Homo sapiens: one gene and its partner. The protein of the gene in region 2 interacts with the protein of the main gene of each other region in a pairwise test. Each region holds a gene or a part of one and is shown on either strand. Other genes may lie near its edges. The genes, in order: RASSF3 and RASSF4.

Region 1 (7,701 bases), on a different chromosome or scaffold from region 2:
ACAAATACTCACTTTATGTTGAAGTGGTATGTTTCAGGGGTAGGAGACCTCAGGGCAAGAACAGGGGTGGAGGGAGAGATTTCTAAAGAACTGACAAGGTTCTATTTTAGTAATGGTCAGGGGGTGTCCATTTTATATAATAATCCTTTAAACTGTTCGCATGCTTTTTTATTTTTATTTTTTCACTCTCGGCCTCCCTCCTCTTTTGCATGCTTTATATACTTTTAAATGTGTATATTTCAAAAATTAAAACAATTGTTTTAAATACATTGGAATATGCTGTGTGAGCTTAGGGTTATTTTTCCTCAGAGGATAAGGCAAAGAGAAAATGATATCTGGGAGAACAAATATGACCCACGCGAACCTAGTAAAGTTGTTGCATTCCAGCATGTGTCCCTGTGTATATGTGCAAAAGCAGCTCAGCGCACTCCTGTGACCTTTTTAAATCTAGCATATTATCATAAATAAACACACATAAACAACTAATAACTTCAATTTTTAATAATGGAAACAATTTTGCCATTCTAGAAACTATTTTAGGGGAGAAAAATCTTCCCTACAAAAATAAACTTAAACCCATCAAAATTATAAATATTATAACTTTTTACTTCTGCCATTTAAAATGCTCTCCTGCAATACCACCCCTTCATTTAACATCCTTCCTGTACCATCACATATTGAAGAGAAAACAGTATTACAGCAAAGCTTAGATAGTTTAACATAATGATTTGTACAATGATTCTTAAAAAATCTTTGGCCTTAGTGGCCTTTTTTCTTCACTTACACATTAAAAATGCTGCTGCAGTAACCAGTGTTTGGGAAAGGACATCAGTCTTCAAGAACCATAAACTGACAGAATTTCAATACAGTAGGTTTCCAAATTGCAATTTGTAGTGCACATGACAGTAAGCGAGGTTTTGGGTAAATATAGATGAGGATGCCTATTCAGACAATCTACTTCAAGTAAAAAAAAAAAAAAAAAAAAAATTCACAGATACCCATCAGCTACTACTTTAGGTTCTAACAGTGTCTTAATCTGAGAAACAAATGCTTCACAAAATATAAGTTTACTGGGATGAATAATTAAAAAACCAGGTGGTAATAACAATATACTCAAATCCAGGCCATAGTCTGAATAATAAAACCAGTACAAAAAATCACGAAGGCATTCCCTGAACAATAAAGGTAAAGTGTTGGATGACAATGTCACTAAAACCTCATCAATGTACAAAAGAGAAGTTACATGCAAAATTAAACAAGATGTGCCATACATATTTTATAGCTAATTCTATTTTTTTCAACTTTCCTTAAATGCTTAGGAAGATATGATTGTCTCAGTAAATTGTGTGGCACAGCATAACAACTTAAGTCTGCCTCCAACAAGATGGGTATTCTCCAAAAAGTCAGAAGAGCCACCAAGAGACGAACAGAAATGCAATAAAAGGCACAGTTCACTTGGGCAAAGAACTGAAGCACCTTGGAATTTCAAAAAGAATCCATTAGGTGTCACCAAAGTGTTAACAATTCCTTGGGAATTTATAAACAAAAAATATCTAGACTAAAAATAGAATATAAGGCCCCTCTGGAACCACTGCACACCTTTCCCTCTGTTCTCAGATTAAACTGCTGCATAAAATGAGGTTATTTAGCCTGTTTTTAAGGAAGGCTTCTATTGCACATGCATCTCTTTGGTTGGTAATAACATGTACTTTTGTTAAAATATTTCCATAATGAAGCCCTGTTGTGTGGTTAGCTGGGTGTGGACTTTCCTCCCTTTCTTGGGGGCCCTCCTACTCACAGTCAAGTTGCCCTTTAGAACTAAAGATCTGGTAGGATTGGGTCTTTATTCAATAGCCCTGTTCTCTATTATGTAAGAACAGATTTCAATGTAGAAAAGAAAGGGAGAGGGAGAGAGAGGGAGGGAAGGAGGGAGGGAGGGAGGGAGGGAGGGAGGGAGGGAGGAAAAGAACAAGGTAGGGTGGGAGACAGCAGGGAAGGAAAGAAAAAAGGGAAGAAAGGAAAAGGAAAGGAGGAATAAAAGGGAAGAGAGTGATTGTCACCAAAGTTTACTTGACAAATATCCTAGCTAACAATCAAGGGAAAAACAGCTGCCCCTACCCAAATTCCGTCTCAACTTTGAAAACCACCTGTGGGGGGAAAGCTATACACTATGTAACTTAACAAGAGTTAGTGAACTGTCACTGTCCTGCCTATGCAGAGCAGCTACACCAATCAGACCTTCCACTCCAAAAGGGCAGAATTAAAGGGTCGGATCCAGCTGCGTGAGGCCCACCTCTGCCCAGGTCAGTAGGCTACACCTGCCTGATTCTCTGATTGGTCAGCTGCAGAGTTCATGGGTCCCTCCTTTTGGTTTAGCTCCTGCCTCTGGCTCTGTTCCCATATTCTACCCACCAGGAAACCAAGCGATCCTAAAATGGGTTTAACACCTCCACACTGAATGCTTTTAACTCGTTTACAAGCAACTACCCCTTTCTCCACTACCCCTAACTGAAAAGCCAAGTCACCTTCCATAGCCCGCAGCACTCGCCACCACCGCACATGCCTTCTTCCAAACTTACACTTTGCTTTCTCTGTCAACCCCCTAACAAAATCCTTCACAATAAATTCCTCAGAGTTCCTAGATTCCTGTGCCTTTCGATTCACATGGATAGATTCCTCTGACATTAAAAAAAGAAAACAAAACCAAACAAAAAACCAGACAGGTAGTTTCAAAATAGGACAAGTATTCAGAAAGATTCCTAGTTAAGCTTTTTAAAAAATCAACTGCATATCTGTAAGCTTAACAGCATCATCACATAATTAAAATAACCAAAAAAAAAAACACCCCCAGAGTTCATGCTTCCAAGCACCCTCGAATGCTCCTGATGAGGCGACAGGTTCACAGCTTGCCAAGAGGTAACACTGCGGTGCTGAACAACAAGCTTGCAGAGTCCCTTACATGGGACGCTAAGGTGCAGGATGCTGTGTGACCAGGTTTGGGGAACAAAATCTACAGATAGAAAGGCGAAGACCCTAGCATAGTGGGGCAAGACAGCAGCCCTCTGAGAAGAGAGGCACTTGCTGCTGTTTTGTACATCGGTCCTGCACCGGGCCTCACGGGCAGGGAGCCCCGCTTTAATCAGGCTTCCACACCTCACGGAGGGCTTCTTCCAGCTTCTGCCTGTAGGCTGTGTAGCGCCTCTTCAGGTTCTGCAGCTGTTCATCTTCTTCCTTGTCCAAGATGCGCAAGAAATTCTGTAGTTCTGGAAGGCTGAAGGCTTCCCACTGTCAGGAAACACAGAAAGAAAAATGCCAGATGTTTAATACTCAGTTAGACTTAGGAATGCTGACCAGGAGCTCCCAGAGGTGCGGCTGCCCTCCCCTCCCAGCCCCATGCCGCAGAAGGTGTGGTCTGCAAGAGCTGGGGTGTTGCCAGCCTAAGGGCTCCCTCCACTCCCACTCCCACCTCAGCTCACACCAATCACCTTCCTACCCTCTCCTCCCACTGTTCAAGACGATCTCCCTAAAAGCCAGAGACCTCCATATCCCTAAGTCTATTGGACACTTTCATTCCTTACCTGATTTGACCCCCAACAGCATTAAAAACAATTCGACAGTCCTTTCATCTTAACCTCGAGTCCTCATTGTAACTGACTTTCTTACCTCGCATAATCAGTCTTATCACCCCCAAACAGTTCTCCATTCAGCCTTTTCTCCCTCGGTACGGCCCCTTGGTGCTAGCTACTATCATCTATTCCTGCATCGCTGGAACAGCTTCCTACCTGGCCTCCTCACTCGGCTCTTATGCTCCCCCATCTGTTCCCCAAACAGAACATCCTTTGTAAAATGCTCATCTGGCCAAGACTCTCCCCTGCTTAGAACCATCCAATGGCTTCCCTTAGTTGCTGATGCTGTCTGAAAGACTCTAAACTCTCCGGCCCCATCTCTCTCTCACCGAGCTTCACTCTCTGCCCAAGTGGCACGCATTCTCCCCTCCTCCACTTTGCCTGGCTATGAACTACTCATCCTCCCCATCTCAGCTTAAATGCCACTTTCTCTAAGCAGCTTTCCACAACTTCCTCTCCTCTCTTCCCACCCAAGGCTAAGTGTATCAAAAGCCTTCACAGAGCCCCTGATCACAACCAAGATTTTTAAATTACAATTATTTGCTTAATATCTATCTCACCTGCACCTTACCTACACCACAGCTGCCGTACTTCTCGCTATTTGGAGTTTATCTCTTGCCTTGAGGCTCTGAGCCTTGTTTCCCTAACAGCTCCTAGTACTTATTTAGCAGGCACAAAATAAGTTTTTAGGCTGGGCATTGTGGCTCATGCCTATAATCCTAGCACTTTGGAATGCTTAGGCAGGAGGATCATTTGAGCCCAGAAGTTCAAGACCAGAAGTTCGAGACCAGCCTGGGCAAAATAGTGACACCAGGTCGCTACAAAAAATTTAAAAATTATCTGGCTGTGGCAGTACATTCCTGTAGTCCCAGTTACTTGGGAGGCTGAGGTAGGAGGATTGCTTGAGCCCGGGAGATTGAGGCTGCAGTGAGCCATGATTGCGCCACTGTACTCCAGCCTGGGTGACAGTGCAAGACCTAGTCTCTTTAAAAAGAAAAAAAAAAAAATTAAAACAGATTTTAAAAAATAGAAGCAGTGAATGTCAAGGAGGGTATCTAGCATCATCTACGAGGTTTTTTCCAAACACATCCTCCTCTCCCAAAGGGGGCCCTGGATCCTGGTGGAGAACTGCTGTCTGATGGTGTAGAGAAAAGATTCAAGATAACCAAATACAAACAAAGAGTGAAAAATAAGTAAATCCACCAAATGGGCTCAGTGGTAGAAGAATTCCTGGAGAACAGTTTAGGCTGGTTATTTAAAAAAAAAAAAAAAAAAAAGAGCAACATGGAGTAGGAGAGCAAAACTTCTACGTTAGAATATTCTGTTAATTTTTAAAATTTTAACAGATTATCTTTCACCTATGTTGAAGTCTCCAAAATAAAGACATCATATAAATATCCCTCCCACCCCCTAACAGCTATGGAAATTTCTTCCTCAGTTCAGTTTTCCTTAAATAACTGAGAAATAAGAACACCATACAGAGGTCCAGTACAGCAGTCTGGAACAATAAAACCCAATGTCAAGTCAATTTCAAAACTAAGTTAAGGCCAGGTGCAGTGGCTCATGCCTGTAATCCCAGCACTTTGGGAGGCTGAGGTGGGAGGATTGCTTGAGCCCAGGAGTTTGAGACCAGCTTGGGCAACGTAGTGAGACCCTATCTCTAATTATAATTAAAATACAATAAAATAACCAAGTTAATAAAATTCTTGCCCAATGTAGTTCTAGTTGCTACTTAAAACACTAAGTACAAGAAAAATAAAACACTGAGTAGACTATGCTAATGTGTCTGGCTTAAGCTGGCAGAGGGAATGGTCACCATCTGCAAAGCCAAGTCAGATTTCTGCACCCTGCCTTCTCCCCAAAATGAGTCTGAATGTCTTGAAAAGCTTCAAAACACCAGAATCAAAAGAAACTTCAAAAACATGTAAAACCACTGTCTTCCTAAAACTCCCTTCACTTACATGTATACATTTCTAATTGTGACTCAAAGCCCACCTTGTAAAGTGTTTAGTCCCACTTAACAGATTTTAAAACTGAGGGCTAAAAGATTAGAAGACTTATCCAAGGTCATGCTACTAATCTAACAAACAGTAGGAAACAGAGCCGTTTCCTAACTTTTAACCTAGAAACCCTATTCTCAATTGCACCATGTAGGACATTTCACACCATTTCCTGTTCCAGACAGAAGACTGGGACAGGAGCTTGGGATTTGCTCAAGTGTCATTTAAAGCTGACACTTGATCTAGAGGGCAGGCTCAAGTGCTTTTTTTCTTCTACTGAACTGGCTAAATACAATCCTCCCTGGAGACAACATGGCAAATGATGCACATGGAAACATAATTTCTTAATCAGTTGACTGGGCAAGGGGGAAAAAAAAGATGCTAGAAAGCTAAATGCCTTCCATGGTAAAGAGATCGAATTTCCTTTTATATCCCTTTAGAAGGGAATTAGCCTGGAGACTTTTGTTAGTAGCAAACACATGGTGAGTGTCAACTTTCAAAGTTCAGCTGGACTGGAGTATTTTGGAGGTGGGAAGGGGTGAAAATGACTCTCTGGATGGAGATCAAGTAAAAAAACTTTATTTTCTCCCACCTCTGAAAATGACAGACTAATAATATAAGGTTGTGAGAGAATGACATCATAGGCTAACTTTGGGTTCATTTCTGACAATTCAAAATCCCTCTCCCTCTCCCTGCCCTCCAACTCTCTTCTCTTCCCATCCCCCTGCCCTCCAACTCTCTTCTCTTCCCATCCCCCATCAATAGCCAAGTCACTAGGCTACTGCAATAAAATAGGGCCAGCTGTTCTGTATAGTTTAAAGCAATAGTGAACAATAACTTACCTCTCCAATTTCATGTTCACGAAGAACAAAACTAAGTGTGTCTGTTCTGGGCCCTGCTACCAAACGCAGGTAGAGTGGATGTTCCCGGTCTGAGAGCTTGCAGGCGTAGACTGGGTAAAGAAACAAGCAGCATGTTACAGAGTATTCAGCCATTCCTGAGACCACTTCCCCATTGTGATCCCCTCCTCCAGATCAAGGTAACCATCCAAGTTACCCCAGCCTCTAAGTCGCCAGTCGGCTCATCTTATTATTTAATACCAGTAGCCCACAGTGGAATAAAATCTATTCTGTTTCTGTTCAAATATAAACTGTGCCTTGATTAAGAAGGAAATTATTTTCAAGAATAAATTTTAATAGATATTAGTCCCAAAATATGCTTATAGTTAGCTCTGCTCTTCCTTTTAGAAAACAAGGTAAGAGCCAGGCATGGTGGCTCATGCCTGTAATCCCAATACTTTGGGAGGCCGAGGTGGGCGGGTCACCTGAGGCCAGCAGTTTGAGACCAGCCTGGCCAACATGGCAAAACCCTGTCTCTACTAAAAATACAAAAAATCAGCCGGGCGTGGTGGCGGGCACCTGTAATCCCAGCTACTTGGGAGGCCGAGGCAGGAGAATCACTCAAACCTGGGAGGTGGAGGTTGGAGTGAGCCGAGATCGTGCCATTGCGCTCCTGCCTGGGCAACAAGAGTGAAACTCTGTCTCAAAAAATAAATAAAATTTTTTTTAAATGAAAAAAAAAAGGCAAGATAAGAAACCTAAAAAAGGGTCCACTACTCCTTTAAAAACAATAAAAATAGGCCAGGCATAGTGGCTCGCACCTGTAATCCCAACACTTAAAGGCTGAGGCAGGAGGATCACTTGAGGCCTGGAGTTCGAGACCAGCCAGGGCAACATAGCAGGACCCTGGTCTCCAAAAAAAAAAAATTTTTTTTTCTAACTAGCCAGGCATAATGGGGCCCGCCTATAGTCCTAGCTACTTAGGAGGCTGAGGCAAGAGCATCACTTGAGCCCAGGAGTTCAAGGTTACAATGAGCTATGATCATGCCATGGTACTCCAGCCTAGGTGACAGAGTAAGACGCTGTCTCAAAAACCAAGGCCAGGCGTGGTGGCTCATACCTGTAATCCCAGCACTTTGGGAGGCCGAGACAGGCAGATTGCCTGGGGTCAGGAGTTTGAGACCAGCCTGGCCACCAACATGGTGAAACTCTGTCTCTACTAAAAATACAAAAGTT
Region 2 (8,627 bases):
ATCCCTCTGGCTCAACTCACTCCTCCCTGCCCCAGAAGACTCTGCACTGTCCAGGTGGAGGTGATGGAGACCAGGGGAGTCCAGGAGAGGCGGGCACAGAGCTCCCCTCCACCTCCACTCCCGCCTTGCCCTGGACTGACCACACAGGCCCAGCTCACCTTTACTCCCCGCTGCGGTTCTGGCCTCTCACTGACAGGTCTCTCTGAGTCCAGTCCAGCATCCAGGCCTCCCTGATACAGCTCCCCTTCCTCTGAGAGCCTGGCCCTGAGCAGCCATGTAGATCGCAGACCAGCCTTCCCAGTGGGCAAGACTTCTGGCTTCTGCCCTTGTTTCAAGGCAAAGCAATTTGGGACAAGAAAACCATTTCCAGTCCTCCTGCTCCCCCCTTACACCTTAAACATACATTCTCTGCTCCTGGAACCCCCTGAACCACTCCTCAACTTCCCCACCAACCAGGCTCACCTCTAGCCTATGGAAGAGAAGATCCACAGAAACAAAGATCTTCTTAGCTATGGTTTTCGGGCCAAACGTGCTCAAAATGGGCACTGTCCAATATCCCGATTGCCTGGGGCTGGGAGTGCAATGCAGAGGGGCAGACCCCTCTGGGTGCCTGCTGCTGCAGGGCTGCTCTGGAGGCTCTCTACGGCTGCCCTCACCTGTGCTGTCCACTGCCCCAGGCCTGTGTGCCACATGTCACTGCTGGGGACATAAGGGCCCTGTGAGACAAAAGGGTCCCAGAATCTTTTGGGTCATAGAGTCCTTTGGAGTCTCTTGAAAGCTTAGTGCACTCTCCCCAGAAAATGCATGTATGTGCATGTTGTTGCAATCTGCATCCACGTGCAAACACACACACAATTTGCATATCACTGCAGGGAGATGAGACAGCTCTTGTCCATGTACTCCCAGATCCCCAGATCTTAGGTTTAGAATCTCTGCTGAAACCTGTCACAGCAAGAAAGAGGAGGCAGAGGAACGTTGTAGAGCCTTGCATGTGAGTTTTGCTGTGGCATTAACTTGGCCTGTGATCCTAGCGTGTTGCGCCGTCTCTTGGGCATCAGTTTAGCCAGAGCTGTTGTGGCAGCTGATAGAGAGTCTTCAGGGCTCTTCCCAGCACTGCAGCTATGGGGCTCAATGACACCCCACCCCTGCTTCCCAAGGTCAGGCAGGGCAAAGGGAGGGGGTTCCGGGCCTCTTCCTCAACAGTATATCCTAGGGCAGAAGGTGGGACAGCCAGAAAAGGAGACCCCGGGAACTACAAGTTTCTCTTTTACAAAAATAAGAAAACTGTTGAAGCTTTAGGAAGTGCAGCCACTTCTTATTTGATTTTCTTTATTTTAAAACAATTTCCCCAAACATACTCTGTGAGAGAATAACCACCTAGCCTTTGCAAGGCTCTGGGTTTAAAGCTCTGCTCTGTGACTGCCTGGCTCTGTTACCTTAAGCAAGTCCAGTTCCCTCTCTGAACCTTGGGCTCCTCATCAATTAAATAACTATAATCCTCGATGACTTCTGTGAAGACGAATGAGGAGACCTGTAAGATGGGCCTTGTGTTGGGCTCACCCATAATGAAAAGAGGCTCCCATTACTATTCTTATTGACACTGGGAGTTGGGGGCTCTGGAGAGACTGTGGAGCCCCAGAGATGGGAATGTGAGGCCTGCCTGCAGGAGTGGCCATGAATGAGGAGAGAGTCTGAGCTGACACCTGAAACCAGGCCCCAGACCCCAGGGGCCCAGGGCAGAGGGCTTTCTGGCAGATCCCCTAGTTAGGTCTCCCCTTTGAGGCTTTGCACGTCCAGAATCTGAACTCTGACACACACCCAAGTTTCGTTCATGTTCTTTGTTATCTGTCATGGTCCACTTGGTCCTGACCCAGGGCGACCCTGGACCTTGATTCTGTTCTCGACCTCCAGGCTACCCACTGGAGCTTCATGGTGGAAATACAACCCAATCTCCTGAGTTTCAGACAGACACTTTAATCTGTAGCATCAACCTTTTTGTTGTCAAATCACCAGCACTACACACTGAGAGAATTATGGCTAGAACTAATGACAACAGCCTTCACATACACTGACAAAGTGCTGAAACAGCCCATGACAATTTCCGGCCAGCATTTTTTTAACCTAAGTTTAATGAGTTTCATCTCTCCTCTTCCCTCCCTTCCTCTTTCTCCTCTGACCCTCTCCCTTCCTGTCTTCTCCCCTAACCTGCTGTCCTGGCAGAAGTAGCTAAGGAACCACACAGAGGAACAGAAGGCAGGATGGTCTACATTTACCTGTTACTTCACCAATTCACTTCTAACTTAAAAAAAAATGGTTTCTGGCAACAAATCCTGATTGACACCTTAGTACTGTGGGCAGTTAAACTACAGCAAAGCCAGCGAGGGGCTCCTCTGTGAGTGCAAAGCATAGCTTTGGAGTCTAACCTGCTTGGGTTCAAATTCCAGAAGCCCAGCCCTTATTTGCTGTGCGACCTTATTTAATTCCTATGTGAAATGGGGCTCCTGAAGCTGTCCTTACTGTGTTTTAAGAAAGTGCTGGCCCTGGCCTGGGCACTGATTCTGGTGTGAGAGGAGGCCTCCCTCCCTCCGCCGTGCCAGGTTAATGAAAACACTGAGGCATGTTTTGGAAGTGGGAAGTGCAGGATGGGACCGGAGTCAGGAGCCCAGAAGAGCAGGGCAGCAGGCAGGCTGACCTTCGGAGACTAAGGGTGAAGAGCAAGAGACTCAGGGGCACAACAAGCCCTGGGTTCAAATCCTGGCTCCATCACCAACTCATCCGGTAAAGGTGGACAATTTTATAACTCTTTAAGCCTCAGTTTTCACATCTGAAAAGGGGATAACGAAAGTAGGACTCTCACTTGCTGTGAGGAGTAAGAGGCATATCGTGTTAAAGCACTTGGCCCAGAGCAAGGCGAGCCCTCTACAGACAGCGATTGTGAGACAGACCCCCCCTGCTGCTATTATCTTGGCGTTCGATTTCCATCAGTGAAATCAGAGTTGTGCCAGAGGCCTCTAGGCTCTCTCCCCAACTCTAGGATCAGTGCTTCTAGGAAACTGGTTAAGGACAAGGTGAACAAAAAAGGTGTAGCCAGTGGCCGGGCTCATCTGTCTTGCTCAGGTTGTAGCCCCTAAATTGCTTAACAGAGGTGCCAGGCGCAGTGCCCCCTCTCAGCAATGAGCCCGAGGCCCGCAATGCGCCAGGCTGGCGGGGGAGGGACCCTGCGCGCTGCGGCCGAAGGGCACAAGTGCCCAGGCTTCAGCGTCCCTGCCTGGTGGCAGTCCTGGGTCGGAGGGGATGCTCCATGGACGCCCAAGCACTCTCCTGCTCGTTCATCACTCACCGTCCAGTCATCGCGCAGTCCAGAAGCCACTGCATGTGTCGTGTCCTCGCTTGCACCGGAGCTGCGCCCGCAGCGCCTGCTGACCCCAGGCTTCAGCTGCTCGGGGCCAGGCCCGCCCCTCGCCCCGCCCCTCGCCCCTCGCCCCGCCCCGCTCCCCGCCTCTCGCCCGGCACGGCCAAAGGTGCCGCCCCGGTCTCTCCGTCCCGCCCCGAGCACGCCCCTCACTCCGCACCGGCCAATGGCACCGCCCCGTCCGCCCCGCTCTGGGAACGCCGGTAGGTTCCGGGTGCAGGGCGGTGGCCTAGGGGCGGCGGGGAAGATTTGGGGCCTGCGACCTGCCAGGTGTCCCCAGGCCATTGTTCAGCTCGCCGCGCGCTCCCGAGTTCCCGAGGGCGCCCCGGGACGCGAGGAGAAAGCAGCCCGACTCAGCCCCGAGAGGTTCGGTGTGCGGGCAGCGGCCAGGGACTTTGCGGGGTAGCGCGGACTCCTGGACTTCCAACAAGGGCCGCTGCGCAGGCGCTGCAATCACTGCAGGCACTTGTCTGCATGCCTGGTGGGGCTTGGAGTCTGGGGAGGCTTATCAGTAAAGCCCAGAGCATTTGCTATTTATTGCTCAAGGGGCACCTTTGTACAGTCTGGCCGTTTGCTTGGCATGGCCTCTTAGAACTCCTTATTGTTTAAGAAATCCGATCTGGTGAATAAGAAGTTAGTCTTTCTCTCCCAGTCACTGCCTCCTGGACGAATATTTGCCAGCACGGAGGCAGAGAGGACAGAAAACCACAAGCCATTTGGGGAACTGGGAACAGTTCAGTGTTTCTGGGGTGTGGGGGTGTCAAGGTGGGGGATGGGGTTGATGGAAAACATTTGCAATTTCTGCTTTACCTCACGATTCCCAGCTCTGACCTCTGGACCTGTTCTCTCCCACCCCTAACATAAATCATTTTAGTTTCATTCAGTGTGCGTTTCCTAATATTTTTAGGGTCTCATGGCCATTTTAGAATCTGATATGGATCTTCTAGAAAGTGCAGGTGGCCATATGCACCAAAATCAGCCTGGGATTTGAGTCTCATGGGTCCCTGAACTTCGACTTAGAGGGGCTGTGCTAATGCTTGTATGGCTGCTGTATGACTTATGTTGGAACCCCCACCTGCAAAAAGTGACAGGACTGAAGATACCCAGTCCAGGGGCCCTCCCGTTTCTGCGTTTGCTTGAATTTTTGGAGAATGGCCCATCCTTTGACAGCTCTGAGGCTCCCTGTGGTTGGTGACTTGTCATGACACATTTGCTCTTCCACAGCCCTCATCAAAGCTGAGACAAATAATCGGGTGCTTCCAAAGGTTTTTTAAAAGTGGGTAAAATTCAATATAACTGTCAACCTCTGAGCATGAGATCCTAAGAATTTAATCACTCCTGATAGGAGAAGTAAACATAGCACCAGGGTGACATAACAGTTTCCCTGGGCTCTCCAGAACTCGAGTGTGAATCATTCTCTCTGACCTAATTAATGCTGTTCACAGGGCCATGACTGGCTCTGAGTGAGGACTGGGTTTGGGACAGCAACCCCATGTGTCCTGTGCACCCATTGTGGGCTCAGACACTATGCTAGTGCTTTACATTGGGGATCCCATGCAATTCCCCCAGCACTCCTGGGCAGTTGGTGTTACTGCTTGCATTTTTTAAAATTTCCATTTTTATTTTAAATTTAGGGGATACACGTGCGGGTTTGTTACAATTGTACATTGTGTGGTACTGAGGTTTGGGATTGATCCTGTCACCCAGATGGTGAGCATAGTACCCAATAGGAAGTTTTTCACCCCTCGCCCCGCTGTCTCCCTCCCACTTTTGAAGTCCCCAGTGTCTATTGTTTTTATCTTTATGTCTAGGTGAACCCGATATTTAGCTCTTTTGCTTGTAAGCGAGAACATGTGGTGTTTGCTTTTCTATTTCTGCATTAGTTCGCTTAGGATAATGGCATCCAGCCACATCCATCCTGCTGCAAAGGACACGATTTTATTCTCTTTTATGGCTGTGAGTGCTTGCATTTTACATCAGACACAGGTGTCCATTGTCAGCGTCCTCCCCTCAGAAGGGGAGGGTCCATTGTCAGACCCCTCAGAAGGAGGGGTCACCTTTTCTTTCAGGGTTCAGTAGAACTGGGTGTGGTCTCCAGCTCACTTATGGTGGAGGCTACAGATACTGTTGGTTGCCAGCCAATGTCCATTTCCTTCTTTGGAAAAAAGAAAGATAGGAAAGAAGGAAAAGGACAAAAAGGAAGGAAGGAAGGAAGAAAGGGAAAGAGGGAGGGAGGAAGGAAGGAAGGACGGAAGGAAGGAAGGAAAGAAGGAAAGGAGGGAAGGAAGGAAGGAAAGGAGGGAAGGAAGGAGGGAGGGAGGAAAGAGGGAATGGGGAAGAGAGGAAAGAGAGAGGGAGGGAGGGAAGGAAAGGAGAGAGAAATACCCACTTGTCTGTAGCAGCAACATGCCAGCCCCTAGTTATGGCTCATGCCCACTTGTATTTTTCATACTCTACTTACAACCCAATAGTGGGTCATGAAATTAATTTAGTTGATGATGTGACTAGTACTTCAAAAATGCAAGGGAAAATACCAGTGTACAGCACAAATAGTAAATATAAGTTGTGTTTTGTGGAACTTTTTGTTTGCATTGTTTATGTTTCAGTTATGTGTGCTTCTTACTGTGGGTTACAGTTAAAAAAAACAAAACAGCTGTCTAAGTCTTGACAATCCTTTTCATAGCTTTTTTTCAGTGAAGCTAGAAGTGGCCATACGACCTACTTCTGGACGCAGAGATGGGGGAAGGTGTCCTGGGGGAGGAGAGATCTGAGGGATGGTGAAGATAACTTTTGCTTTTCTGGTAGAAAGAACAGATGTCTCTCCTGCCTGCCTGTCTCAAATGAGGACATGATGTGTAATGTCTGGAGCACTGGCAGCCATGTTGAGATCATAAAGCAACATGTCCGCATGCTGAGGCTGGCAGAGCATAAAGATCAAAGGTGTCTGGATCCTTCTTAACATCATGGAGCTTCTGCACCAACCCTGCACTGCCTACTCCAGACTCCCTACCATGGAGAAAAATTAGCCCCTATTTCTTCAAGGCAGAGGTTGGTAAACCTTTTCTGTACAGGGCTGGATAGTAAATATTTTAGGCTTTGTGGGCTAAATGGTCCGTGTCACAACTACTCACCACTACTGGGGTAGTTTGAAAGTAGCCATAGACAATATGTAAACCAAAGGACATGGTTGTGGTTCTCATAAAACTATTTTAAAAAATGGATGGCAGGGCTATAGTGTGCCAACCCCTTCCCTAGATGATCTTGTCCCCTAATTGTCTCTCTGACCTCATCTCCTCCTACTGCCTCTCCTTCTCCCTGCTCTGATCACACTGTTTCTCCCACACACCCAGCCTGTTCCTGTCAGGGTCATTCCTTCCCTTGGAGGGCTCTTTCCCCAGATGTCCACAGCGCTCCCTCCTTCCCCTGCTTCAGGTCTTTAATCACAAATCACCTCCTTTTTCAGGTCGTCCCTGGGCCCTCTGTAAAATGCCCGTCCCTGACCCACGCATACCACTCTGGCATGCTGTATATTCCAGTCTTTATCATGAGCTCCTAGAGGAAGAGACACTATGTTTCCTTAAAAACTGATTCTGTCTGGATTGTCACAGTGTTTAATCAATATCTGATGTATGATTGATTTTTTTTTTTTCTTTTTGCCAGATTCAGGTAAGAAAACAAACTCAGGGAGGCTGAGTTCCCCCTCCAAATGACATGTGCAGATAGTGGCAGAGTCCAGGTTTGTGCCTGATGGCCCAATGTGGTGGTGTCTGTACCACCCGGGAGTGAGGGAAAAACAACATCTACCTCTAATGGAACACACTGGGTCTCAGGGGAGCCAAGGCCACACAGAAGTTCCTGCAAGACTCCTTGCTCCAGGGCGCCGCCCCAGTAAAGGAGGCCTTTGGGAGTCCATTAAGTGAGCAGGGTGTCCTGTTCGTCTTGGGCAATTGCATTCTTTTTGGCCTTCCTACCTCAGAAAGACTTAGGAAATGCTGTTATTCTGCAAACAGTTTGGACTGACTTGTAAGATCCGTAAAAAGACAAATGGAAACACTCATGAGCCAGTGTTTTTATGAAAGAGCCGCAAAGGATAAATTTATGTTTAATTCGCAAGTAGGGAAGCTCATAAGAGCCTAAGAGCTTGATAAAGGCTACTGGGCCCATCTGTCAGGCAGGCTGCTCTGTGTGGTTTTGGCTTGAGGCATCTTGGCACCAGGGCACAGCTTCCAAAAGACCGAAAAATTACCTTCTTCCCTTTGGTGCTCCCAGGGGGAAATGCCTGGGTACAATCACATGTTGTTGAGATGTCATTTAGATTTTTGAGTCCTGAAAAATAGGTTTATATATCTTGATGTAAATGATATTAATAATGAGAACCATTTTCAAGCCATTCTCTTAAGACAGTAAGTGGGATTTTGAATTAATTTCTGATAGATCTGATTGATTCCTTAAGGCCTTTTATGGATGGCTTCATGTGATTTTTTCCCCCTTCATTGTATCCAACATTAAATTAAAAACAAATGACTTTTATTTCTCTTTCTTCTTTTTCTTTCTCTTTCTTTCTTTCTTTCTTTCTTTTTCTTTCTTTTTCTCTTTCTTTCTTTTTCTTTCTTTCTCCTCTCTCTCTCCCTTCCTCCCCCTTCTTTCCTTCCTTCCTTTCTTTCTCTCTCTCTCTCCTTCCTTCCTTCCTCTTTCCCTCCCTCCCTCCCTGCTTGCTTGCCTTCCTTCCATCCCCTTCCTTCCTTCCTTCCTTCCTTTCTCTCTCTCTCTCTCTTTCTTTCTTTCTTTCTCTCTCTCTCTGTCTCTCTTTCTTTCTTTCTTTCTCTCTGTCTCTCTCTCTCTTCTTCTTTTTTGGCAAGTCTTGCGTGCTCTGTCCCCTAGGCTGGAGTGCAGTGACAATCACAGCTCATTGCAACCTCGACCTCCTATGCTCCAGCGATCCTCCCACCTCAGCCTCTTGAGTAGCTGGAACTATAGCCATGGGTCACCACACCTAGCTAATTTCTAAATTTTTTGTAGAGACAGGGTCTCTCTATGTTGCCCAGCTGGTCTCTAACTCCTGGACTCAAATGATCCTCCTGCCTCGGCCTCCCAAAGTGCTGGGAATTCAGGCGTGAGCCCTGATGCCCTGCCACAAATGACCTTTTCAAGCAATTTTTCAAAAAGTCTGTGTGATTCCAAATGTGTATTCTTTAGAAAACAGTTGATGATTGTG

Evidence for each region.
Region 1: the proteins of RASSF4 (region 2) and RASSF3 interact in a two-hybrid assay, tested with the Homo sapiens proteins (one study listed by IntAct).

What each region holds. Positions count from the first base shown.
Region 1 is NC_000012.12:64,690,347-64,698,047, reverse strand, and holds the end of RASSF3 (ras association domain-containing protein 3), read right to left. Parts: intron 6,579-7,701; coding exon 6,469-6,578; intron 3,286-6,468; coding exon 3,136-3,285; 3' UTR 484-3,135; downstream 1-483.
Region 2 is NC_000010.11:44,954,580-44,963,206, reverse strand, and holds the start of RASSF4 (ras association domain-containing protein 4), read right to left. Parts: upstream 3,406-8,627; 5' UTR 3,341-3,405; intron 1-3,340. UniProt on the Homo sapiens protein: Potential tumor suppressor. May act as a KRAS effector protein. May promote apoptosis and cell cycle arrest.